Linked DNA regions of Homo sapiens: region 1 is linked to region 2. The links come from fine-mapping of genetic effects on gene expression. A gene starts in region 2. The other region holds a variant in brackets. All regions are shown on one strand. Distances are between the middles of the regions.

Region 1 (16,728 bases), 78 kb after region 2:
AATCATGGCATCTGCAAATATAAACAGTTTTATTTCTCTCTTTCCAATCTATATACCTTTTATTTCACTCTCTTGTCTTATTGAAATAGCCAGGACTTTGAGTCCTGGTGAATCAGGAAGTGTGATGCCTCCACTTCGGTCCACTTGCTCAACATTGCTTTAGCTATTTGGGGTCTTTCATGGTTCTGTAAAAATTTTAGCATTGCTTTTTCTGTTTCTGTGCAAAATGCCACTGCAATTTTGATAGAGTTCGCATTGACTTTTAGATCACTTTGGGTAGTGTGGAAATTTTGACAACATTAATTCCTCTGATCTGTGAACACAGGACATCCTTCCATTTGTTTGTTTTCATCAATTTCTTTCATCCAAGTTTTAGTTTTCAGTGTACATATCTTTCACTTCCTTGATTAAATTTATTCCTCAGTATTTTATCCTTTTTGATGCTATTGTAAGTAAATTGTTTTCTTAATTTCTTTTTTGGATAGTTCATTGTTAGTACATCAATATGCAACCAATTTTTGTATATTGATTTTGTGTCCTAAAAATTTACTAAATTGATTAGTTCTAACTTTTTTTCATGGAGTCATTAGGGTTTTCTATGTATGTAATCATGTCATTGGCAAACAGAGATAATTTTACTTCTTCTTTTCTGATTTGGATGCTTTCTTTTTTTTGCTTTTTTTTCTTACCTAATTTCTCTGGCTAGGACTTCCAGTATTATGTATAACAGAACTGGCAAAAGTGGACATCCTTTTTGTTGTTCCTGATCTTAGGGAGAAAGCTTTTCACTTTTTATTTTTGAGTATGTTGTTAGAGGTGAGATGTCATATATGACCTTTATTGTGTTGAGGTACATTCCTTCTATACCAAATTTATTGATACTTTTTTATCATGAAATGGTATTGAATTTTGACAAATGATTTTTCTGTATCTATTGAGATAATCATATAATTTTTATGTTTTATTCTGTTAATGTGATGTATCACTTTTTTGAGTTGCTTATGTTGAACTATCTTTGCGTCTGAGGGATAAATCCCATTTGATCTTGGCGTGTCACTCTTCTAATATGCTTTTGAATTTGGTTTGCTGCTAGTATTCTGTTGAGGATTTTTGCATTTATGTTTATCAGGGATATTGGTTTGTATTCTTTTCTTGTAGTGTCCTTGTCTTTCACATCAGAGTAATACTTGTTTTATAATATGAATTTGGAAGTATTCCAAAAATTTAGTTTTTTGGAAGAGTTTGAGAACAGTTGTTATTAGTTCTTCTCAAAACGTTTGGTAGAATTTACTAGTGAAGCCGTGAGGTCCTGGGCTTTTCTTTGATATGTGATTTTGATTAGTTATTCAATCTCCTTACTTGGTCTGTTCAGATTTTCTATTTTTTTATGATGCATTCTTAGTTAATTTTATGCTTATAGGAATATATCTGTTTCTTCTAGATTATCCAGTTTGTTAACATATAATTGCTCATAGTGGTCTATTATGATCCTTTGTATTTCTGTAGTATCAGTTGAATGTCTCCTTTTTCATTTTTATTTATTTTAGCTTATCTCTTTTTTTCTTCATCTAGCTAAATGTTTATCAATTTTGGTTATCTTTTCAAAAAACAACTCTTAATTTCATTAATCTTTTCCACCTCTGCTTGTTGTTATTTTCTTCCTTCTGCTAACTTTCAGCTTAGCTTGCTCTTCTTTTTCTAGTTCTTTGAGGTATAAAGTTAAGCTGCTTATTTGAGATCTTTCCTTTTTCTTCATGCAGGCGTTTATCACTATAAAGTTCTCTCTTAGAACTGCTTTTGTGGTATCACATACATTTTGGTATGTTGTGTTTCCATTTTCATTTGTCTGAGATATTTTTGGTGTCCCTTTTGATTTCTTCTTTGACCCATTGGTTGTTCAGGTGTGTGTTGTTTAATTTACATATATTTGTGGATTTTTCTGTTTTTTTCTGTTATTGATTTCTAGTTTGATACCAAACTAGAAATTGGAAATGGTTGGAAAAGACGCTTGATATAATTTCAGTCATTTTAAATTTGGTAAAACTTGTTTTGTGGCCTAACATATGATCTATCCTAGAGAATATTCTGTGAATACTTGAGAAGAATGTATATTCTGCTGCTGTTGAATGGAATGTTCTGTGTATGTCTGTTAGGTCCATTGGTCTAAAGTGTAGTTCAAGTCCAGTGCTTGTTTCCATATTGATTTTTCTGTCTGGGTGATCTATCCATTGTTGAAAGTGGGGTGTTGAGGTCTTCTATTATTATCATTGCATTGCTGTCTATTTCTCCCTTTAGTTAGTTATATATTTAGGTGCTTCAATGTTGGGTGCATATATGTTGAATATTGTTATATTCTCTTGGTAAATTGATCACTTTATCATTATGTAATAATCTTTTTCTCTTGTTAGTTTTTGATATAAAGTCTATTTTGTCTGATATAAGTACAGCTACCCCTGCTCTCTTTTGGTTTCCATTTGTATGAACTATCATTTTTCTTCCCATCACTTTCAGTCTATGTGTATCCTCAAAGTTGAAGTGAATCTCATGTAGGCAGCATATACTTGGGTCATGCTTTTTAAATGCATTCAGCCATTGTGTTTTGTTTTTTAATTTAAAAGATGAGATCTCACTATGTTTCCCAAACTGGACTTGAACTCTTGGGCTCAGTAATCCTCCTGCCTTAGCCTCCTCAGTAGCTGGGACTACAGGAGTGCACCACACTTTGGCTATTCTGTGTCTTTTGATTGTAGAATTTGATCCATTTACATTTAAAGTAATTATTAATAGGTAAAGACTTACTATTGCTGTTTTGTTCATTGTTTTCTGGATATTTTATACACCCTTTGTCGCTTTCTTCCTTTCTTATTGTCTTTCTTCGTGATCTGATGATTTTCTGTAATTGTATGTTTTGATTTTGTGTACCTACTATAGGTTTTTGATTTGTGGTTACCAGGAGAATTGCATTAAACATCATATAACAGTCTATTTTAAGCTGATAATAGCTTAAGTCCCATACAAAAACTACTTCACTCCTCTTCCTTCCCCACATTATATGTTTATGATGAAGTCTGCAGATAAATTAGTAGGGTCTATGGCCTTTCTCACCTTCTCTCAGTTTCTTGCAACCACTTAGCTGTGCCGACCACCTCAGTGTTCTCAGTGGGGTGAGAAACAGTGGGCCTCTTGGGCAGTTTGCCATATGGCTGGGGGAGCCTGGTGCTCACTCACTTTCCTCTGTGGAAAGGTCATGGACCTAATAGATTTATTTTGGCATTGAGCTATGCTGCCTTGAAAAAGGGGTGATGTGGATAAAGTCAAACGGTTCTTTTACCCTCTTCAATGCATTTATTATTAGATTTTTTGCTATAACTGTGCTAGAACTTCTCCACTGGACTCCTGGACTTCCACAAAGATACTGTCATCTATAGGTAGTTGAAACATCAATGCTTTTGTGGAGGGATGATGGTGGAAATCTCCTATTCTGCCATCTTACTGACTTCACTCTTTTTAACTCCAGCTGTTGGTCATAAGATACTTTGGACAAGATCACTAAAATCTTGTCACAGAAACTGGATATACCTATGGTGGCTGCAGCCACTTCTTACATACTTGGAGAGCTAATGTCTTCCCCCTTCAGAAAAGTGGAGTAGAGGAGAAGAGGAGTAGTAGAGGAGTAGTGGAGAAGAGGAAGACAGGGAAGGGGAAGAAGAGAAAGAGCAGAAAGAAGCCAAAGAGAGAAAAATGTTAAATAAATTTTCTGCTTCATTTGATATGGTTATATATTGTTTTCTTTAGTCTGTTGATGTGTGGATTACAGAGATTGCTTTTTGAATGCTGAACCCATCTTGCATATCTAGAATAAATCCCATTTGGATTGTACTTCATAATTCTTTTTATTTATTATTCGATTCACTTTGCTAATTTTAAGAAGGTCTTTGCATTTATATTCATGAGAGATATTGGTCTATAGTTTTCCTTTCCCATAATATCTTTACCTGAGTTTTGTTATTACAGTAATGCTGTCGTCATAGAATGAGTTAGAAAGTGTGTCTGTCACCTTGATTTTTTGGAAGAGATTTTTTGGTGGAGAATTTGGTATGACTTCTTCCTTAAATTTTTAATAGAATTCACTGCTAAAACCATTTGGGCCTGGTAATTTCTTTTTAGGAAGGCTACTATTATTAATTCAATTAATTCAATTTCTTTAATAGATACAGGGATATCCAGGTTATTTATTTCACCTTGTGTAAGTTTTGGTAATTTGTGTCTTTCCAGAAATTGGTCTATTTCATCCATGTGAAATGTGTGGGTATAGAGTTAATTATAGAATTTCTTTATTATGCTTTCACAGTCCATGGGATTAACAGTGATGATACTTTTTCATTTCTGATATTGATTATTTGTGTCTTTTCTTTTTTTCTTGCCTAACCTAGCTAGAGGTTTATGAATTTTATTAATATTTTCAAAGCACCAGCTGTTATTTCTGTTGATTTTTTTCTGTTTTGAATTTCATTCATTTATCCTCTAATTTTTATTAAATTTTTCTTCTGCTTGTTTTAGGCCTAAGGTGGGAGCTTAGGTTACTGATTGCCTTTCTAATTATAGTCAGTTAATGCTATATTCAGCATTGCTTTTGCTGAGTCCTACAAATTTTGATATACTGTATTTTCATTTTCATTTAGTTAAAAATATTTTTTAAATTTCTCTTGAGACTTCTTTTCAGCTTGGATTATTTAGAGGTGTATTGCTTGATTTCTAAATATTTGAGGATTTTCCTGCCAGCTTTTTGTTTTTTATTTCTAGTTTAATTCCACTATGGTCTGGGAACACTTTATATAATTTCTATTATTTTCAATTAAAGTATGTTTTATTCTAGAATGTGGTCTATCACGATGAATGTTCCACATGAGCTAGAGATTAATGTGTATTATTCTGTTGTTGGATGAGGTAGTCTAAAATGTGAATTAGATCAAGTTGGGCTATAACTGCTGTTCAGGTCAACTTTATCCTTGTCTATTTTCTGTCTTCTTGACCTATCAGTTACTGGCCGTAGGGTCTTGAAGTCTCCAGCTGTAACAGTAAATTTGTCTATTTCTCCTTGCAGGTCTATCAGCTTTTGCTGCATGTGTATTGGTGCTCTGTTGTTAGGTACATACACATTAAGGATTGTTGTATCTTCTTGGAAGTCTGGTTCCTTTATCATTATATAGTGACTTTTTAATATAATTTCAATTTTATTTTGGATTTAGGGGTTGCCTGTGCAGGTTTGTTACATGGGTATGTTGCATGAACCTGAGGTTCAAATGGTCTCATCACCTATGTAGCGAGCATAATATCCAATAGGTAGTTTTTAAGGCCTTGCCCCCTTCCTTCTCTCCTTTCTTGGGTAGTCCTCAGTGTCTGTTGTTCCCATCTTTATGTCCATGTGTATCCAATGCGTAGCTCCCACTTATAAGTGAGAACATGCAGTATTTGGTTTTCTGTTAATTCACTTAGGATAATGGCCTCCAGCTGCATCCATGCTGCAAAGGACATGATTTTGTTCTTTTTTATGGCTGTGTAGTATTCCATAGTGTATATGTACCGCATTTTCTTTATCTAATCTACCCTTGATGGGCACTTAGGTTGATTCCATGTCTTTGCTATTGTGAATCATGCTACAGTGAACATATGAATGCGTGTGACTTTTTGGTAGAATGATTAGTTTTTCTTTGGGTATATAACCAGTAATGGGACTGTTGCCTGGGATGGTAGTTCTGTTTTAAGTTATTTAAGAAATCTTCAAACTGCTTTCCACAGTGGCTGAACTAATTTACATTTTGATCAACAGTATATAAGTGTTCCTTTTCTTTGCAGCCTTGCCGTTATCTGTTATTTTTTGACTTTTTAATAATAGCCATTCTGACTGATGTGAGATGGTATCTTATTATGGTTTTGATTTACATTTCTCTGGTAATTAGTGATGGTGAGCATTTTTTCATGTTTCTTGGCCATTTGTATGTCTTCTTTTGAGATGTATTTGTTATTGAATTTTGCCCATTTTTTTTTTTTTTTGAGACGGAGTCTTACTCTGTTGCCCAGGCTGGACTGCAGTGGTGCAATCTCCGCTCACGGCAAGCTCCGCCTCCCGGGTTCATGCCATTCTCCTGCCTCAGCCTCCTGAGTAGCTGGGACTACAGGCGCCTGCCACCATGCCCGGCTAATTTTTTGTATTTTTAGTAGAGATGGGGTTTCACCGTGTTAGCCAGGATGGTCTCGATCTGCTGACCTCGTGATCTGCCCACCTCGGCCTCCCAAATCCTCATGCTAGGATTACAGGCATGAGCCACCGCGCCCAGCCAATTTTGCCCATTTTTTAATGGGGTTATTTGTTTTTCACTCATCAAATTGTTTAAGTTCCTTATAGATTCTGGACATTAGACTTTTGTCAGATACATAGTTTGAGAATATCTCCCCCATTCTGTAGGTTTTCTGTTTATTCTGTTGATAAACAGATAAACAGTGATTACCTTAGCATTTACAATATACATTTTAAATTTACCTAAGTCCATCTCCAAATAACACCATTTCACTTCATTAGTAGCACAGATAAGTCCTGTGTTAGTCCATTTGGCATTGCTATAAAGGAATGCCTGAAACTGGGTAATTGATAAAGTAAAGAGGTTTAATAGTTCTGCAGGCTGTATAAGAAGCATGATGTCATCATCTGCTTCTGGTGAGGCCTCAGGAAGGTTTTACCCTTGGCAGAAGGCAAAGAGGGAGCAGGCATGTCACATGGCAAGAGAGGAAGCAAGAGAGGTGCCAGACCCTTTTAAATAAACAGCTTTCACATAAACTTACTGCTGCAGAGAGGGCACCAAGCCATTGATGAGGGATCCACTCCCATGACCAAAACACCTATCACTGGGCCCAACTTCCAACATTGAGGATCACATTTCAACA[T/C]GAAATTTGGAGGGAACAAATACCAAACTATATAAAGTCCCGATTCCTCCTCCCATCCCTTATAATGCTTGTCATTTATTTTACTTACCCATATGCTGTAATAACCCAATGCATTCTTACTAATATTATTTGAAACAAATAGTTATCATTACATTGATTTAGAATAAGAAAAGATCTTACTTTTACCTTCATTTATTCCTTCTCTGATGCTCCTTTTCTCTTTATGCAGATTCAAGTTTCTGACCTATAATTTTCCTCTGTCTAAAAAAGAATCTTAACATTTCATTCGGGTGTGGTGGCTCACACCTGTAATCCCAGCATTTCTTGTAGGGCAGATCTGGTGATAAATTCCTTCCATTTTTGTTTGTCTGCAAAAGTCTTTACTTTCTCTTCACCCAGCCTATCACTGTATATAGGCTGGGTGCAATGGCTAACACCCATAATCCCAGCACTTTGGGAGGCAGAGGCAGGAGGATCACTTCATCCCCAGAGTTCAAGACTAGCCAGGGCAACATAGTGAGACCTCATCTCTACAGAAATAAAAAATAAAAACATTGTCAGGTGTGGTGCAGCACATCTATAGTCCTAGCTACTTGGGAGGCTGAAGCAGGAGGATTTCAAAGTCCAGGAGGTCAAGGCTGCAGTGAGCTATGATCACACCACTGCACTCCAGCCTGGGCAACAGAGTGAGACTGATGCTGAAAAAAAATTTTTTTTAATGATAGCCTAAGAGCTGTGAGAATTAATGTGAATTGCAGGACACATGTATCATCAACACTTTGAACATACTTGTGGCCCTTGTTCCTCTCAGGGCTTTAAAAATCATTTTTATATAATTTAAAAATTATATGTAAATATATATGCACACATACACACACATATACACATGTGTATATATACATATATGTGCATATACATACATGTATGTATATACACACACACACATATATATAAAACTGGATATAGAATTCTAGGTTGGTAGTATATGTCTTTCAACACTTTAATTATTTCATCTGATTGTCTTCTTGCTTGCAGTTTTCGGACAAGAGGTCATTGTAATTCTTATCCATATTTCTCTCTAGGTAATGCGGTATTTTTCCTTTTGTGTCTTTCAAGAATTCTTGTTGTCTTAGGTCTTCTCAGATTAAATATAATATGTCTATGTGTAGTTGAGGGTTTTTTAATGTTTAAAAAATTCTGCTTGGTGTTCTCTGAGCTTCCTGGATCTGTGGTTTGATGTCTATCATTAATTTTGCCAAGTTCTAAGCCATTATAACTGCAAACATCTCTTCTGCTCCATTCCTTTTTTCTTCTCTTTCTGGTATTCCAACTACAAGTATGTTACATTTTTTAAATTTCCCTCAGTTTTTGGTTGCTCTGTTCTGGTTTTGTTTTGTTTTTTTCAATTCCTCTTTTTTCCTTTGCATTTCAGTTTGGAAAGTGTCTGTTGATCTGTCTTCAAGCTCCTCAATTCTTTCCTTAGACTTGCTTAGCCTATTGATAATCCCATTGAAGGCGGTCCCTGTTTCTGCTAAAATGTTTTTTATTTCTAGCATTTCCTTTTGATTCTTTCCCAGGATTATCATATCTCCGCTCGATTACCCATCTTTTCTTAGCATTTTGTCGATTTTTTTCATTAGAGCTCTTAGCATGTTAATCATAGTTATATTAAATTATCTATGTGATAATTCTGACATCTGTGTCATATCTCAGTCTGGTTCTGTCACTTGTTTTGTCTTTTGAAGCTGTGCCTTTTCTTATCCTTTGGTGTGCCTTGTAAATTTTTTGTTTATCAGGTAATAGAAACTGAGGTAAAGAGCCCTCTACTGTGAGGGTTTATGTTATTCTGACAGGGAGTCAGGTATGAGGGGGAGAATAGTGTTCTATATTCTCCCAATTAAATGCCTTACAGTGAGCCTGTGCCTCGGGCTGAAACCTTCACAAGTATTTCCCAGTGTCATAGCTTTTGCAACTTGGGAGTGACAGGAGAGCTAGAAGGGGCTGGAGTTGGGGAAATGCCCTTCACCCAGGTGGGATAAGGCTCTGGAAACATCTTTCCCCAGAAGAGTAGTACTTTGTTATGGAAATTGCTCCACAATTACTCTTCACCCCTGCCCCCTACCTGCCTCCTACCAGGCTCTTCTGCGCTCTTCACAGTGAGAAACTGGTTCCTGGAGGTAAAGTCCATGAAAGCGTGGAGCCCCCAAGACTGCACACCCCCAGGATCTCTTACTCTCAGGGTAGCCTGTCTCAGCAGTTGATCAGAACTACCATTTAAACATCTGTGTCTGTTTGTGTCTCCCGTGGCTTCTACTCCAGTAAGCCAGTCTTGGCCACAACTCTCTGGACTTCCCCATTTCCCTGATTTCAGGAGAGTGATTTGCTCTACAATCTCAAGTCTCTGATGGGTCTGAGAAAGTTAGTGATTTTCAGGTTGTTCTGCTTTTTCCGGTGGAAGGATGGGAGCTCTTTACATGTTGAGGGTGAAAATAAAAATCCATTCTTTTTTCAGAATGTTTTTGTCCCTCCCTATTCTTTCCTTCAGGCCCTCTAATTACTTGTATACTAGGCCACCTGAAATTGTCCCATAGCTCAATGATACTCTTATCATTTTAAAACAATTCTTGTTTTTTCATTTCATTTGGAATATTTTCTATTGGTATATCTTTAAGTAATCTCATCCAGTGTATTTTTTATCTCAGACATTGCTGTGTTCATACTGACAGCTCAATTTGGTTCATTCTTACATTTTTCACATCTCTCCACATCTCTGTTTAGCTCTTTGTACATAGGGAATGCAGTTACAATAACTGTTTTAATGTCCTTGCCTGCCAATTCTAACATTCATGTCTGTTCTGGGTTTGTTACAATGGGTTGATTTTTCTCCCCATTATGGGTGTATTTTCTTGCTTCCTTGCAGATCCCACAATTTTTTATTGGTTGCAGATGTTGTGAATTTTGCCGTGTTGGATACTGGATACGTCTGCATTCCTATGAACACGGCTGAGCTTTGTTCTGGGATGCAGTTAAGATACTTTGGAACAACTTGTTCCTTTCATATCTTGCTTTTATGGCTTGTCAGGCAGGCCTGGGACATTACTCCATCCAGGGCTAATTATTCCCCACTGCTGGGGCAAGACCCTTTTATTGGTACACTACCCAATGCCCTGTGAATCATGACATTTTCCAGTCTGGCTGGTGGGAACTGGTTCTTCTCCCAGTTCTGCATAGGTACTGGGTCTTGCAGCCCCGAACCCTTTCAGTTGGTCCTTCCAGGCTTGGGTCATTCCCTCCCAGGCCTGTGATGAATGTATCCTGCTGAATATTTTAGGGGGAACCTTCTGGAGATCTCCAGGGTTCACTCTTTGTACCACTCTCTTCTCTGCCCTGCAAACTCTAGCCACCTTGGTCTCCCCAAACCCCCAATTCTGTTACCTCAACTTGGATTCATTGGGCTCTGCCTCAATTTTCCTCCCTGTATTGCAGTCCAAAAACTCTCTCAGGGCAGCAAGACAAGGCAATTGTAGGGCTCACTTTGTTTTTCTTCTCTTGGGGATCACTGTCCTTCTTTGCCCAATATCCTTTCTTGAAAACCAGTGTTTCTTTTTTTTTTTCTTCTTCAATCTTTTTGCTTATTATTTCAGCTGAGAGGGGAAACCCAGTTCCTGTTACTTCGTCTTTGCCAGAAGTGGGTGAAAAGCCTTGGAGAGTGTCATCAGTTTTGACTTATTTTCTGGCTTTGGAGTAAAGGCAGGTTCAGGGACTTCTACTTGTTCTTTCCTGCCATAATAGGTCTTACCACAAAGGTCAAGGAGCTGATGAAGGAGTCTGCCTGCTTATGGGTCCATGTTGATTATTTGTGTAGGAACTGGGGGCGTAATCTTCAAATGGGTTCATGAACATAGCCCACCCCATGAGATAGACCTGGGCCAGATTTCCACTTATTATCTAACTCCCCTATGCTGCTTCTTTAATGGGGGGCCCATGATGGCACTTGGGTCCCCTAGTACCAGTGTTATGAGTGTTATGCAGACTCCATATGCAACAGCCCTGCAAAGATAGTTGTGTCCCTCAGTTATCAGCTGTGATGATCTGATTCAGTGGCTGTAGGTCCCTTGGGGAAAGGACTGAGGACATACCACAGGTTGCATTTGGTATGCTGTTTCAGGGTCCTGCCTCATGGGGACCCAGCTTCTCTTTCCATTGGTGAGTCTGGGTCTGAGAACTGGCTGAGGTCTGGAAATGGTCAAGGGGTCAGGATTGCATTTGAGAGAATGATCTCAGCCTCAGGCATCCAGTCTTGATCCCTTGTTTCTATATTAAAGGGTCACCTGGTTGGTTGCCCACCTGTCCCCTCTAGGAGCATCATGCTCTATTATCCTTCTCAAAGACCCCTGTGGGTAAGGCCAACTGGTGCCATTTCCTCTTTGCTGCCCGAATTCACTTTCTGTGGCTGCCATAACTAAGTACCATAGACTGGGGGACTTAATAACCAGAAGTTTATCCTCCTCAGTCCTGAAGGCTGGAATCCAAGATCAAGGTGTCACAGGGCTGGTTCCTCCTGAGGCTTCTCCCCTTGGCTGGCAGATGGCTGCCTTCTAGCTGTGTCCTCACAGGGTCCTCCCCCTGTGTGTGTCTGGGTTCTAATCTCCTCTTCTCACAAGTATATCAGTCAGGTTGGATTAAAGCTGCTAGAATTTGGATGTTTGTCCACTCCAAACCTCATGTGGAAATTTGATCCAATGTTGAAAGTGGAGGCCTAATGGGAGGTGTTTGGGTCATGGGAGTAGATCCCTCATGAACAGGTTAATGCCCTCCCTGGTAGAGCGGGGCAAATGAGGTCTCACTTTATTAGTTCCCTCAAGAGCAGGTTGTTAAAAAGAGGCTAGCACCTCCCTCCCATCTCTCTGGCTTGCTCTCTTGCCATACGGTCTCTGCACACACTGGCTCCCCCTCACCTCCACCATGAGTGGAAGCAGCCTGAGGCCCTCACCAGCAGCAGATGCAGGCCCCGTGCTTCCTGTACAGCCTGCAGAACCATGAACCAAATAAACCTCTTTTCTTTATAAATTACCCAGTCTCAGGTGTGCTTTTATAGTAACACAAGTGGACTGAGAAAATTGGTACTGAGAGTGGGGTGTTGCTATAAAGATACCTGAAAATGTGGAAGTGGCTTTGGAACTGAGTAATGGGCAGAGGTTGAATGAGTTTGGAGGGCTCAGAAGAAGACAAGAAGATGAGGGAAAGTTTTAAACTTCTTGGAGACTAGTTAAGTGGTTGTGACTAAAATGCTGATAGACATGCAGGCAATAGAGGCCATGCTGATGAGGTCTCTGATAGAAATGAGGAACTTACTGGGGACTGGAGCGAAGATCACCCTTGTTAACCCCTAGCAAAGGTTGCAACTGCATTGTGTCCGTGCTTTAAGGCTTTGTAGAAGGCTAACCTTAAGAGTGATGACCCAGAATGTTTAGTGGAAGAAATTTCTAAGCAGCAGAGTGTTCCAGAAGTACCATGGCTACTTTTAACAACTTACAATCACTACAACAGCAAAGGAATGATCTAAAGGTAGAATTTCTAATAAAAAGGGAAGTAGAGCATACAAATTTAGACAATTTTCAGCCTGGCCTGTGGTAGAGAAGCAAAGAATGTTTTCAGGAGAGGAATTCAAGGTCCTTTGTGACACCGGTTGCTAGAGGGGTTGGCATGACTGAAAGAGGGTATAATGCTAACAGTCAAAACAATGGGGAAAGGGCCCTGAAGGTATTTTGAAGGACTTTGAGGCCACCCTGCCCATCACAGGCCCAGAGGCCTAGCAGAACAGAGTGGCTTGGAGGGTCAGGTCCAGGGTGCCACTGCTGTGGACCACCTTGGGATGCTGCTTCCCACATCCCAGCCACCCCAGATCCAGCCATGGTCCCAATGGCCTCAGATACCGCTTGGACAGCTGCCCTGCAGAGCACGAGGCATGGGACTTGCTGGCTTCCATGTATTGTTAAGTCTGCAGGAATCCAGAATGCAAAAGTGCTGGAGGTTTGGCCACTTCCATTTAGATTTCAAAGGGTGTATTGGAAAGCCTGGGTGCCCAGGCAGAACCCTGCTGCAGGGATAGAGCCCTTCGGAGATATTCTTCTACTGGAGCTGTGGGAATGGGGCTGCCAGGGGGACCCCAGAATTACAGAGACACCAGCAGTGTGCAATCGCAGCCTGGAAAAGCCCCAGGCATTGGACTCCAACCTGTGAGAGTAGCCACGTGGGCTGGGCTCAGCAAAGCCATGGGGGCAGGGCTGTCCAGAGTCCTGGGAGCCCACCCTTCCTTCCAGCGTGGGATGTGGGACATGGAGTCAAAAGAGATTTGGGAGCTTTAAGATTTAATGTCTGTTCTGCTGGGTTTCAAGCTTGTGTGGGACCTGTCCTGCCTTTCTTTTGGTCAATTTCTTCCTTTTGGAATGGGAATGTTTACCCAATGTCTGTCCCACCATTGTACCTTGGAAGTAAATGACTTGATTTTGATTTTACAGGCTCATACCTGAAAGAAACTTGCCTTGAGTCTTAGATGAGACTTTGCACTTTGGACTTTTAAATGGATGCAGGAAGAAGCTAAAACTTTAGGGGACTCCTGAGATGGGATGATTGTATTTTGCATGTGAGAAGGACATAAATTTGGGGGGACTGGGGAGGAATGCTATAGTTTGGATGTTTGTCCCCCAACCTCATGTTGAAATTTGATGCCCAGTGTTGGAGGTGGGGGCCTGATGTGAGCCGTTGGGGTCATGAGGATGGATTCCTCATGAGTGGATTAATGCCCTCCCTGGAGGAGGGTGAGAACTAAGTTCTTACTTTGAGTTCCCATGAGCACTGATTGTTAAGAAGAGCCCAGCACCTTCCCTCTCTCTTGGTTCCTCTCTCACCATGTGGTCTCTGCACACCGGCTCTCACCCTCCCGCCATGAGTGGATGCAGGCTGAGGCCCCCCCCAGCAGCAGATGCAGGTGCCATGCTTCCTGTACAGCCTGCAGAACCATGAGCCAAATAAATCTCATTTCTTTATCAATTACCCAGTCTCAGGTATTCCTTTATAGCAACACAAACAGAGTAAGACAAAAGCCCACACCCATGACCTCGTTAGGACTCTCACACTGGATCTTGGATTGTGAATTTATAGATCTGAACTTGGGGTTTTCTTCCTTCAGGACCTTCATGGCTCTCAGCAAAAGCTGCCCGTTCCACAGCTCTTTGCTTAAGGTTTCCCCATAGTTCTCAAGTGCTGGGGACATGGCACCAGGTGGTCTGTGATCCCACAGTGTTCTGCTCTAGCCTGCCAGGGGCTCTATCCACTCCTCCCCTGCTCACCCCCATGAGGGGCTCCTCCTTGCCCTGGTCAGTGAGAGAGCTGATCACAGAGCCCACACCTGGGCTCAGCTTCCCAGTGCCATGCCTGGCACCAACTGTCTCAGGCCTGTTCCCCTGAAGAAGAATCTGCAGTGGGGTTTCTCATGCATGGGATTTGTTGGGGGAGGGGTGCCCTCCCAGGAAGAGAAGAGGCTGAGAACACAGGCAAGCAAGAGGGGGTCTCGGCAGCAGACAGCCTCAGGGAGCTCTGGGGCATAAATTGTACTATAGTAGGCTGGGCTTTGAGGTAAGGGGACTGGGTTTCATATTCCTGGGTGGTCACTCCTAGCGTGGGCTGCCCCTGGGCTGGGGCATAGCCTCCTGTTTGCCTGAGAACGAGTCACTGAGGAGGGGCAGCTGTGAGTACTTGCAGCCAACCTCTGTGGCTGGGAATGGTTGCAGAGCCAGTGTAGGAGTCAGGTGGAGCCGAGGGTGTAAGGGCCAGGCGGAGCAGAGGCTGGTATAGGGACCCAGTGGGCACAGGGCATGAGGACCCAGTGAGGCGCTGGCAGCATGCTGCAGGCTGGACAGCTCCAGGCACCTTTCTCATTACCACGTGTCCTCCTCGCACCGGGCATTGTGAAGCTTCCAAGGCTGGGTCCACAGGGCGTTGGAACAGGGGGAGCCCACAGAGAGCCTGCCAGGCATGGGGGCTGTCCTGGGAAGCTGCTCTGGCCCCAAGAGGTGCCTTGGGAAGGCTTGGCCTGGCCACAGTCCTGCAGCACCCCCTGGGCATGGGACGGGGGTGCCCAGCTCAGCCAGGCTCAGAGGTCCTGGCCCCCTACAGCAGGCAGCGGGCAGCATCCACACCTGTAGGTCTCCTTGTCCCAGCAGGTGGGACTCCAGGCACACTCGCTGCAGCAGCGGTGTCTGTCTGAGCCTGCCGGCCTGGGTGGGCACCGCTGAGGACGTTTTTTGGGCGTTGGTGCCAGGGTGTCGGTGCTGGGCGTTGGTAGTGGTGTCCCTGTGGGCAGGCAGCTGTGCTGGGAGGGCGGGTGTTGCTGGGTGCCCATGGGTGTGGCTGTGGCTGTGGGTACGTGTGGCTGTGAGAGGATGGGCACGTCTCTGCGTGCCTGTGTGTGCCCCTGTTTTGTGTGTCTGTGTGTGCCCATACGTCTCTGTGCACCTGCATGTGTCTGAGCATACCTGTGTGTGTCCGTGTGTGGCTGTGCGTCCCTGTTGTTTGTGCATGATGGTGTGTATTTGTGTTTATCTGTGTGTGGCTCTGTGTGTCTGTGTTTTGTCTGTTCATGTCTGTGTGGCTATGTGTACTGTGTGTGGCTGTGTGTATTTGTGTTTATCTGGGTATGGCTATGTGTGCCCATGTGTGGCTGTGTGTGTCTGTGTGTACCTTTGTGTGCCCATGTGTGGCTGTGTGTGCTGTGCATGGCTGTGTATATTTGTGTTTATCTGTGTGTGGCTGTGCAAGTCTCTGTGTGTCTGTGTGTCTGTGTGTGTCTGTGTGGCTGTGTGTCTGTGCGTGTCCGTGTGTGTCTTTGTGGCTGTGTGTCTGTGTGTGTCTTTGTGGCTGTGTGGCTGTGTGTGCTGTGCATAGCTGTGTGTGTTTGTGTTTATCTGTGTGTGGCTGTGCATGTCTGTGCGTGTCTGTGTGTGTGCCTTGCGTGTTTGTGTGTGTACCTGTGTGTGCCTGGTGCCCTCCAGGAGAAAGGGGGCAGGGAGCCCATTGCAAGGATGGGCGGTGTACGACCTGTCTCCCTGAGGATTTCTGAGGGTGTGAGGGTGGGGTAGCCACAAGTGTGTCTATGCCGGGCTCCCTGCTGTTTAGAGGGTGGGGTGATAGGCAGCTGAGAAAGGAGAAGGGAAGAAGCAGCTCTGAGCTCCCTCCTGACCTCAGGAGACCCTGCACCCATTGCTGACCGCCCACGGCACCCTGCTCTCCCAGGGGCCTGGGAGCAGCCCTGGGGCCTGGCTGTGAGCGGGGCCTGAGAGGTGGGGCGCGGCCCTCGGGGCTGCCCATCTGGCCCAGGTTACACCTGGCTGGTGCCTACTTTCCTCAGGTGAGGACCTGCGCATCCCAGGCTCAGGGTCCTCTCTGTGAAGGGGGCACGATGGTGAGACCACCCTGAGCATCCGGTGCGCCCAGTGCATCCCGCAGGGAGGCCCCATCCTCAGCTCCTCTGGGGGTCTGTCCGGAGTGCCTCTTGGTCCAGCTGCATCCATCCAGTCTGCTGGCACTGACTGAGCACCTACTGGACACACTGGGATATAGTGGGGGGATCTGGGCCGGGCAGGGACCCCCACAGGGCTTGTGGGTCAGGGCAGGAGAAGGCCCGGGGCAGTGGGGGCAAGCAGAAGCCAGGCTCCGCGGCCTCTGACACTGAGGGCCCCAGGTGGGCCTCCTGGGTGGCTGCTCTCCTGCACCCTCTGCAGACAG
Region 2 (8,076 bases):
TGCTGGCTGAGGGCCACCATCCCCATCTGGAAGCTATCACTCAATGCTGCCTCCCAGGCTTGAGGCCCTGAGCCAGCTCAGGAGACCAGCATTTTCCAGAAACCATTTCATTCCTCAGGAGAAAGAGCATCCACGGCCTCTCTCTCTCTTTCTCTCTTTCTCTCTTTCTCTCTCTCCCCCCACCACCAACCTCCCGCGCAGAGAGGATCTTGGGTGGTGGATGGGCCCACCCAGACCTCCCCAGGGCCTTCACCATCAGAGGCTGCTGGGTGGTCAGGTCTGCCCTGGCCATTTTCTTTCTCCTCATTCTAAATGGAAATAAATAAATAGATACATAAGCGAATTGAATGTGCTTCCTTGGGCGGCGCTGCCAGCTCTGCTCTCTCAGCCCAGCAAGCTCTTTCATTTCCTGTGCGAGAGGCCAGCTAGGGGAGAGGCCGGAGGGGTGGGGGCAGGCAGGAAGGGGCTTTGTGGGGAGCATCCAGGCGCCCAGCCCATTGGAAAAAATCTTTCCACTCCCTGCTCCCCTTCCCTAGCCCCTTCACTTGTGCTCATGCGTGCAGACACACATACAGATGTGCCAGATGCAACACGCAGACACCACACCCGTATGGCAACAGGGGCAGGTGAAGACCGGTGACAGATACTTACACACACACACACACACACACACAGAGGCACCTGCACACGCACACACACATGCACACACACACTCATGCACATGCACACACACATGTATATTTGCACACGCATACACATAGGCTCACCCTCATGCACACACATGCATGCAGCTCAATGGAGCAGGTCTCTTGACTGGGGTCTCCCAGCTCCCTGCTGTGGCCATGCTGAGCTCACCATCCAGGCTGGGTCTAAGTGCATTGGGGCTTGGGAGCTGTGCTGGAGCCCACCCAGCTGGGACTGGAGTGTCCTCAGGACCCCAGCCCAGTGCAGGCATCCAGTTGGGGGCCTCCAAGGCTGCTCTACAGGCCTGACCCACATGTCAAGTCACCCTGGCCTTGGGGCTGGCTGGGGACACAGAACCTGAGCCCAGGTGCTCCCTGACCGCCTTGGCCACAGATGAGGGTGCTAGACTGGTTTGTGCACGGGGGCAAGGTGGGGTGGGAAAGGCTGGTGACTGGGACAGGAGCCCCGTGGCCCAGCGGCTGGCTTCTGCATATGTGGCCTCAAGCCCAGCACCATGGCACCCCCTGGTGGACGGTACTGCAGCCCCAGCGCTGGTTCTTTCTGGGCCTCCAGCTCTGACCTGGACCCCTTGGCCTGGCCCTGTTGCCAACCTTTTCTTCCATCCAGGTGTCCCTTTGCAGGCCACACACCCTCTGGGGGGGGGGGCAGACTACCTGCCTTGTCATCTCCCCACTGGGGCCTCCCACCTGGCCCTGAAGCCAGATAGCACAGGCCGGGGTTGTCCCTGCCCATGCTCGTGTGCCCCGGAGCAGGAATCCTGGCTAGTGCTGGAGCTGCTGGGTCCTCCTCTGCCCACCATGGGCCCACCCAGGGCTGGTTGGCCCGGCAGCAGCTCCAGGAGGTGACTCTATTCCTATTCTTGGAGACATTTATAAACCAGGGTCATTAAACAAGCATTTGCTGAACTTGAAGGCTGAGCTGAAAACCCTGCCAGCCCTGGGGACCCAGGAGGCTCTGCCCTCAGGGACCCCCAGAGTGGTCCAGCTTCACAGGCTAAACAGGGAAGCAAAGCCCCCAGCACAAGCTCCTCATGGCTGGAAAGGGGAGACGGGAGGCTAGAGGGACAGGTGGGAGCCCGGGGCGCCAGGGAGGAGCTGCCCCAGCTGGGGTGAGAGAAGAGGGCTGTGGGCCTAGCAGGGGCAGGACAGGCGTGGGGAGGCTGCCGCCAGGTGGGGTCTGCGATGACCATCGAGTGGCAGGGACCAAGACAGAAGCCCATGGGGAGGAGTAGGAATGAGGGTGACAAGAGGCCACTGCTATGGGGTGGGGTGGAGGGGCCTATGGGACCTCGGGGCTGGGGAGACACCTCCGGCAGCTGGGAAGGAGAGTGTGCAGCTCCGGAGAGCCCAGGCTGGAGAGCTCAAGGGGCGTTTCCTGAGCCTGGCCCGGCCTCCTCCGAACAGGAAATGGGATGCTCCCAGTGCCCTCCCAGAGCTTGCTGGGCAATAGAACCAGACCCTCCCAGGGACTTTGGAAACAGCTCCCAGGGTCAGGAGGGCCGTCTCTCTCTTTCAGAGCTCCTATAGGAACCCTTGTTGGGCGTGTAGATGACAGGGTGAGGTAGGGCCTGGTGGAGGGGCCTTGGCTACCCAGGTAGGGGGTCTCGGCTGGCTAGCATCCCTGGGGCCTCTGTTTCTGCCTAGATACTCAGGTGTGGGGTTGACGTGGGGGTCTCGGCTGGCCAGCATCCCTGGGGCCTCTGGTTCTGCCTGGTCACTCAGGTGTGGGGGTGGCACACAGCCCTGCCAGCTCTTCACTCCTTTCTAATTCTTTTCTGGGGGCCTGGGCATCTGGGAACACAATGAACTCACCCCTGCCATGAGGCCCTGGGCCTCCCTCACGGTGGCTGCAGCGCTCAGCACGGCTCCCAGAGTCAGGAGGCCCACCAGGCTCAACCCCGCAGAGAAGGCTGGTTGGGAGGAGAGAGGAGGAGGGTTAGGGGTGCCCAGGACAGGTCCTGAGTGCACACAGCCTGGGTGTGAAATCTAACTTGGGAGTCAGGGGCCGTGAGGGACTCCTGGGGGGCTCTGAATGGGCCTGTCTCTCCATCAGACGGCCCTGAGGGAAGGAGGAGGGAGGTGGGACTCGTTCAGCCTGGGGGACTGCCCCTCCTTCCCTCTTTTCCTCCCTGCCCTCCATGCCTGTGGGGCTATCTTGGAAGCCACATGCTCCCTGCCATGCCCTAGTGACAAGTGGCCGGACTGGAGCTGTAATCTTATCAGTCTGGACCTGGACCTGGGCCCCAGGCATCCTCCTGCCATGTCCTAGTGACAAGTGGCCGGACTGGAGCTGTAATCTTATCAGTCCGGACCTGGACCTGGGCCCCAGGCGTCCTCCTCCAGGGAGGCCCTGGTCCTAGGACTTGGGGAAAAGCATTGGGTTCTAAGGCAGTATCCCTGACCTCCTGGGCCTCAGTTTCCCTACATCTGCCCACCGGGCTGCAGCCTTCCTGGGCCCCCTGAGCTCCTGCCTGAGAGTCCCCTGCAGATCTGGCTCTGACATCCCCTCATTAAAGGGGCCTTCCTCAGCCTTACCCCTGAGTGGCCCCAGCAGGCTCTGGCCCTCGCTCCCGCTCTCTGGATGTTGGATAAGTCGCTGCTGAGTCCCTGCAGGGAGGCGTCTGGCTAGAGCAGCCCCCACCCCCTCCCCACCCACATCCCAGGTCCTGAGTGGAACATCAGCCATGTGGAGCCCTCATGGACCTGCTGTGCCCAGCCCCAGGCCAGTCCCAGGCCTGCCTGGGACTGAGCCCTGACTGCACAGAGCCAGGTCCTGACCGCACAGAGCCACTTCCTGACCCTGCCCGACATATACCCACACTGTGCCCACGCTCCTGTGGGGCACGAGAACCAGGCAGGAACACTGGCTGTCACCCAGACCCGAGGCCCTGCCCAGGGGAGCTAGGACTCCAGGGCAGCCCCTCCCTGCCCCTGACCACCTCTGGCTCCTGCCTAGGGCCTGGCACCATTCTGGCTGTGAGGCGTCCAGCTGGGCTCGTGCCAGCCACCCTTGCACCCGAGGCCCCTCCCGATGCAGCCAGGCCTGGACCTCACTTACCCCATTGGTGCACAGCCTGGTACGGGTTCTTCTCCAGGGACGCTCGGCGGATGACAGCAAAGTGGGCCCCGAAGTAGGTAAGAGTCACCATGGTGGCCACAGAGAGGCCCAGCAGCTGTGGATAGGGCAGACTCAGAGTGTGGGGCATGGGACTGCTGCAGGAGCAGGGAGCTCGGCCCCAGCGGGCAGGGTTGGGGCTCTCTCCAGCTTCCCGGTCCCGTGAGAGACAGGCTCAGCTGCAGGGATTCCCGGTGTTTCCGTGGAGTGGTCTCAGGAGGCCTTCACTGCAGACGCCCCAGCACACTCACAGGCACCCCCACATGGTAGACGCATACACGCACAGCCCAGCTTCCCCAGACACCCAGGACCTCTGATCATTGTGTCTACGGAGTGGGAGTGAGCCCCACCCCTGTGCCAGCACCCTCCGGGGCAGGAAGGGGAGAAGATCCCTGGAGCCCGGCAGCCAGTGCCCCTCCACCCCAGCTCGCCCCAGGCCTCAGCCCCACTCAGGCCTCCTCCAGGCTCTGTGCTGCCCCTCAGGAGGAGAGACGGGGTTGCTCATGGTGGTCCCTGCCTGCCTGCGGCTGTCTGCAAGGGCAGGACACATGTCTGCAAGGGCAGGACAGGGACAGTAGGGCTGGTGTGTGTGTCAGGGGAGGGATAATCCCTGTGCTGAGGCCCTGCCACCCCTCACCCCTGCTCACCCCCACCCACCACCCACTCCTGCCCGACCTGCCTGTTACCAAGATAAAGAAGCAGGTGACCAGCATCTGGCATTTGGCAACCCTGACTCGACTCCAAGGCCCCATGACGGTTCCTCTCCTCTCCTCTCCTCCCCTCCCTTCCCCTCCCTGTGGTTTCCAGCTGGGCAGGGGCCTCAGACCGCAGCTCACTGCCCAGGAGGTAGGCTGCATCCGCCCCTCTGTCTGTCTGTCAACATCGCCCTAGGACCGAGCTGCTGGGTGCCCCGGAAGAAGGGCAGGCAGGAAGGGGAGGGGCAGTGAGGTTGGCTCCCCCCACCACCTCACCCTGGTGCCCCCAGCCCAGCCCAAGACACCAGGGCATTTGCTGACATCTGAGGCCCTTCCCAGGAAGACATGGCCTCGTTCTTGGTGTGGCCACTGAGGACGGCGCTGAGAGGGGGAAAGTCATGGGCAGGACCTGGTGTGGGATGTGGAGGAGACGGCGCCCGGGGAGGAGGAGGTGAGCTCCCCGTCCTGGGAGTGAGCAAGTGTGGACTGGGCCTTGGGGGCGTAATCCTTGGAGGAATTTGGATGGGGTCTCCTTGGAACATCATTATTGAGGTGTTCTTAGGAAACACCCTTTGAAATGTCCTGTGACAGCTTAAGTTTTGAGAAGGTCGTTGGTTTTAATGCCTTCGTGGGCGGCACTCATGGATATTTTGTCGCAGAGCCTTCTTGGGGCCACAGGGGTGGGCTGGGGCCTCGCTCACACTCACGTGGGGCCTCCAGGGGGAGGCTTTGTAAACCTCGAATTTGCAATTACACCGAGCCGTGTAATTACGTATGGGTGGGGGCAGCGCTGCGGCCCCAGTACAGGCAGGGTTTCCGTGGGCCTCTGGGGCAGGGTGGGCCTGAAGAGGGTGAAAATGTTCCAGGTGAATCCATCATTCAGGGACCACTCCGGGCCCTCCCAGGAGTGCTAACAGGCGGCTCTGCTCGCCCCTCGGTGCTGGAATTGCTCCTCCTGCATTTGGTCAGGACCTCATCAAGGGGGAGGGGGCCCCAAGACCTGCAGGCATGGCAACCCCAGCGTGGCTGTGGGAAGAGGGCCCAGCTGCCGCCCGCTCAGGAACGCTGCTGGAGGAACTGCTGAGGCCACCGCCTCCCTCCCTCTGCGGAGGGAGAACCAGGAGAACCAGGAGGGACAACCAGGACCCCCGTCCAGCCCAGCACCCCCAGGCAGCACCCTCTGCAGCTCTGGCCCCCAGGAATTCCCACCCTGAGTCTGTGGGGGCTTGTGGAGACCTCAGATGCCTGGCACCCACAGTGTCACTTCAGCTGGGGGCCTAGGTGTGGCTCAGACTGGGGCGCAGGTATGAATGTAGGGGTGGCAACAAGAGTGAAGGTACCAGGTCTAGGGGCAGGAGGCCCCCGGGCTGTGCAAGTGGGCAGCCCGTCCTCTCCAGGGAAGATGAGCTGCTCTTGGCTATGTCTGGTTCGCCCCTAGAATTGTCTCTCTCCAACCTTGACCTCCCTGGAGCTGGTGAGGCGGGCCTGGAGCACCACCCGCTTCTGGGACACCTCTTCATCAGGTCTGAAGAATTTCGGAGCAGGGCGGGCCTGGGTTCTTGACCTGTCCTGATGGCCTCCTTCTCACACCAGCGCTGTGCCCAGGTGGCCTCACTTGTCATCTCAAAGTGGCGTCGAACCCCCTGACAGGTGGACGGGAACCCCCGGCTGGCCCTCCAGAGACCAGGTCTGACCACAGCCCCCCTCACTGTGCCCCACCAGCGGGGGCAGGGAGCCGGTGGAACCCCCACGCCCTTTGCTGAGCCACACCCTCCCACCCCAACATTCCCTCTGCAAGAGGAAGTGGCTTGTTGAGGGGAAGCCACTGTGCAGGCTGCTGCCCACCCCACACCCTCCTGCCCACCCCGCACACCCCTGCCCACCCCGCACACCGCTGCCCACCCCACACATCCCTGCCCACCCCACACACCCCTACCCAACCTTACACACCCCTGCCCACCCCACACACCCCTGCCCACCCTCACACACCCCTGCCCACCCCACACGCCCCTGCCCAACCTCACACACCCCTGCCCACCCCACATGCCCCTGCCCACCCCACACACCCCTGCCCACCCCACACACCCCTGCCCACCCTCACAAACCCCTGCCCACCCCACACACCCCTGCCCACCTGCTCTAGAGGTGGTGCCGGCCGCTGGGAGCCTGGAAGACCCCTCGAGCAGCGGGTTCAGCCCCAAGGAGCTGGCCCAGGAGGACAGCTGCCCCCACCCCTACCCCACCAAGGAGCCTGTCCTAAGGGCTGGGCCCCACTGCAAGCTGGCCTAAGGGCCCCTGGCTTTATTTCCAGGGAAGAGATTGGGCGTGGATGCATGTGCAGGCATGGATGCGTGTGCAGGCGTGGATGCGTGTGCAGACGTGGATGTGTGTGCATGCATATGTGTTTACCCGCCAGGGACTTCCTTTTTCCTCTCTCCTTCCTGTGAATTCCTGGGTCCCAGGTGCGCCCGCTCACTCTACAATGTCCTTACCCACCAGGAGGCCCCTGGCTCAATGATGCCACCTGCAGCTGCCCAACCCTCCGCCCATGGTGCCCTTGTTCCACCTGCCACCGCTCATGAACCTGTGGATCACCCAGCTCTGCACTGGCTTGCCTGCTGCTGCTGTCTCAGTTTACCTGGGCAGTTGCCCCTGGCTATCCGGCTGGGATGGGACTTGGACTTAGAAGCAGGCCCCTCCTCTGGAAAGCTGTGTCCTCGGGCCAGGAGGTGGCAGCCTCTACCTTCCTGAGACAGGGACCCTTTTCTGTCCATCAGAGGTGAGCAGCCGGGCTCTGAGGCTGGAGCCTGGGGGCCCCTGTGCTGTCTGTGAGCGCGGCCCCTCCCACCGGGGAGGCACTCAAGAGCTTCCCACCTGCGTCACAGCGAGTGGGGCCTGGAGCTTGAAGAGACCTGTGGGGGCCACGCGGGCACCTGAATCTGGCTCATGTCTGTCCTTTGCCCTGATTCTGAAATCCACGTCCCAGGAGCTGCCTTTGCAGCCTCTCCTGAGCCCAGGGAGGAGGAGGGCAGCTCCCCTTCTGGATTACCCTAGGCCTGGGTCAGCTGGGTGGGCCCCAGGGGACCTTTGAACCCCTACTGCCTGGGCAGCCCCCTTCCCCTGGAGGCACCCTGGCCTGTCCCTTGAGAGCCAAGACCATACTCAAACTGGGTTCTGGGCTCTGGGCACTGCTCTGCTCCCAACCAAGGGAGTTTCTGGGGCATGGCTGCCCGGGCCTTCCCTCTCAGTGCCGTGGGCTGCTGCCTCCGCTGGCCAACTCCAGTGGGCACTGAGGGGCACCCTGCTTCCCCCCCCAAGGAGCCTAGGCTCTGCCCTCAGTGAGGGCAGAGGGGACCCAGGGATGGCTGCCCCTTCATAGACACAGCTGTCTCCCAGGGGAGTCTAAAGGGACCCCACACCTGCGTCACAGATACCAGGGACAGACTGTAGGGGAGGCGTCTCTATCCACATCCACGCTGTGCCACCCACTAGTATGTGGGGCCGGGCACCACCAAGCCTGCTGTCCTGCCTGGGCCACCCCAGCCTGGGCTGAGACTCGGCA

What was found. PIP is the estimated chance that this variant, and not a neighbour inherited with it, causes the effect.
Region 1: its variant is fine-mapped to the expression of TSPAN32 in whole blood (INTERVAL, PIP 0.99).

The regions. Positions count from the first base shown.
Region 1 is chr11:2,215,921-2,232,648 of GRCh38, reverse strand. No RefSeq gene overlaps it. Among named protein-coding and RNA genes, the nearest start is that of ASCL2, 46 kb to the left of the region's middle. RefSeq lists an enhancer at 8,712-9,286. The variant T/C (reference allele first, on the strand shown) is at 6,943.
Region 2 is chr11:2,298,645-2,306,720 of GRCh38, reverse strand. TSPAN32 (tetraspanin 32) reads right to left here and starts at 4,708. Exons shown (of 10, transcript NM_139022.3): 1 at 4,506-4,708; 2 at 3,763-3,877; 3 at 2,517-2,614. The coding sequence starts at 4,571. It overlaps C11orf21 (chromosome 11 open reading frame 21), which reads left to right and starts at 4,803. Exons shown (of 4, transcript NM_001329958.2): 1 at 4,803-4,965; 2 at 6,108-6,201; 3 at 7,014-7,293. The coding sequence starts at 4,913. The coding sequence ends at 7,265. RefSeq lists an enhancer at 137-804 and a silencer at 7,168-7,462.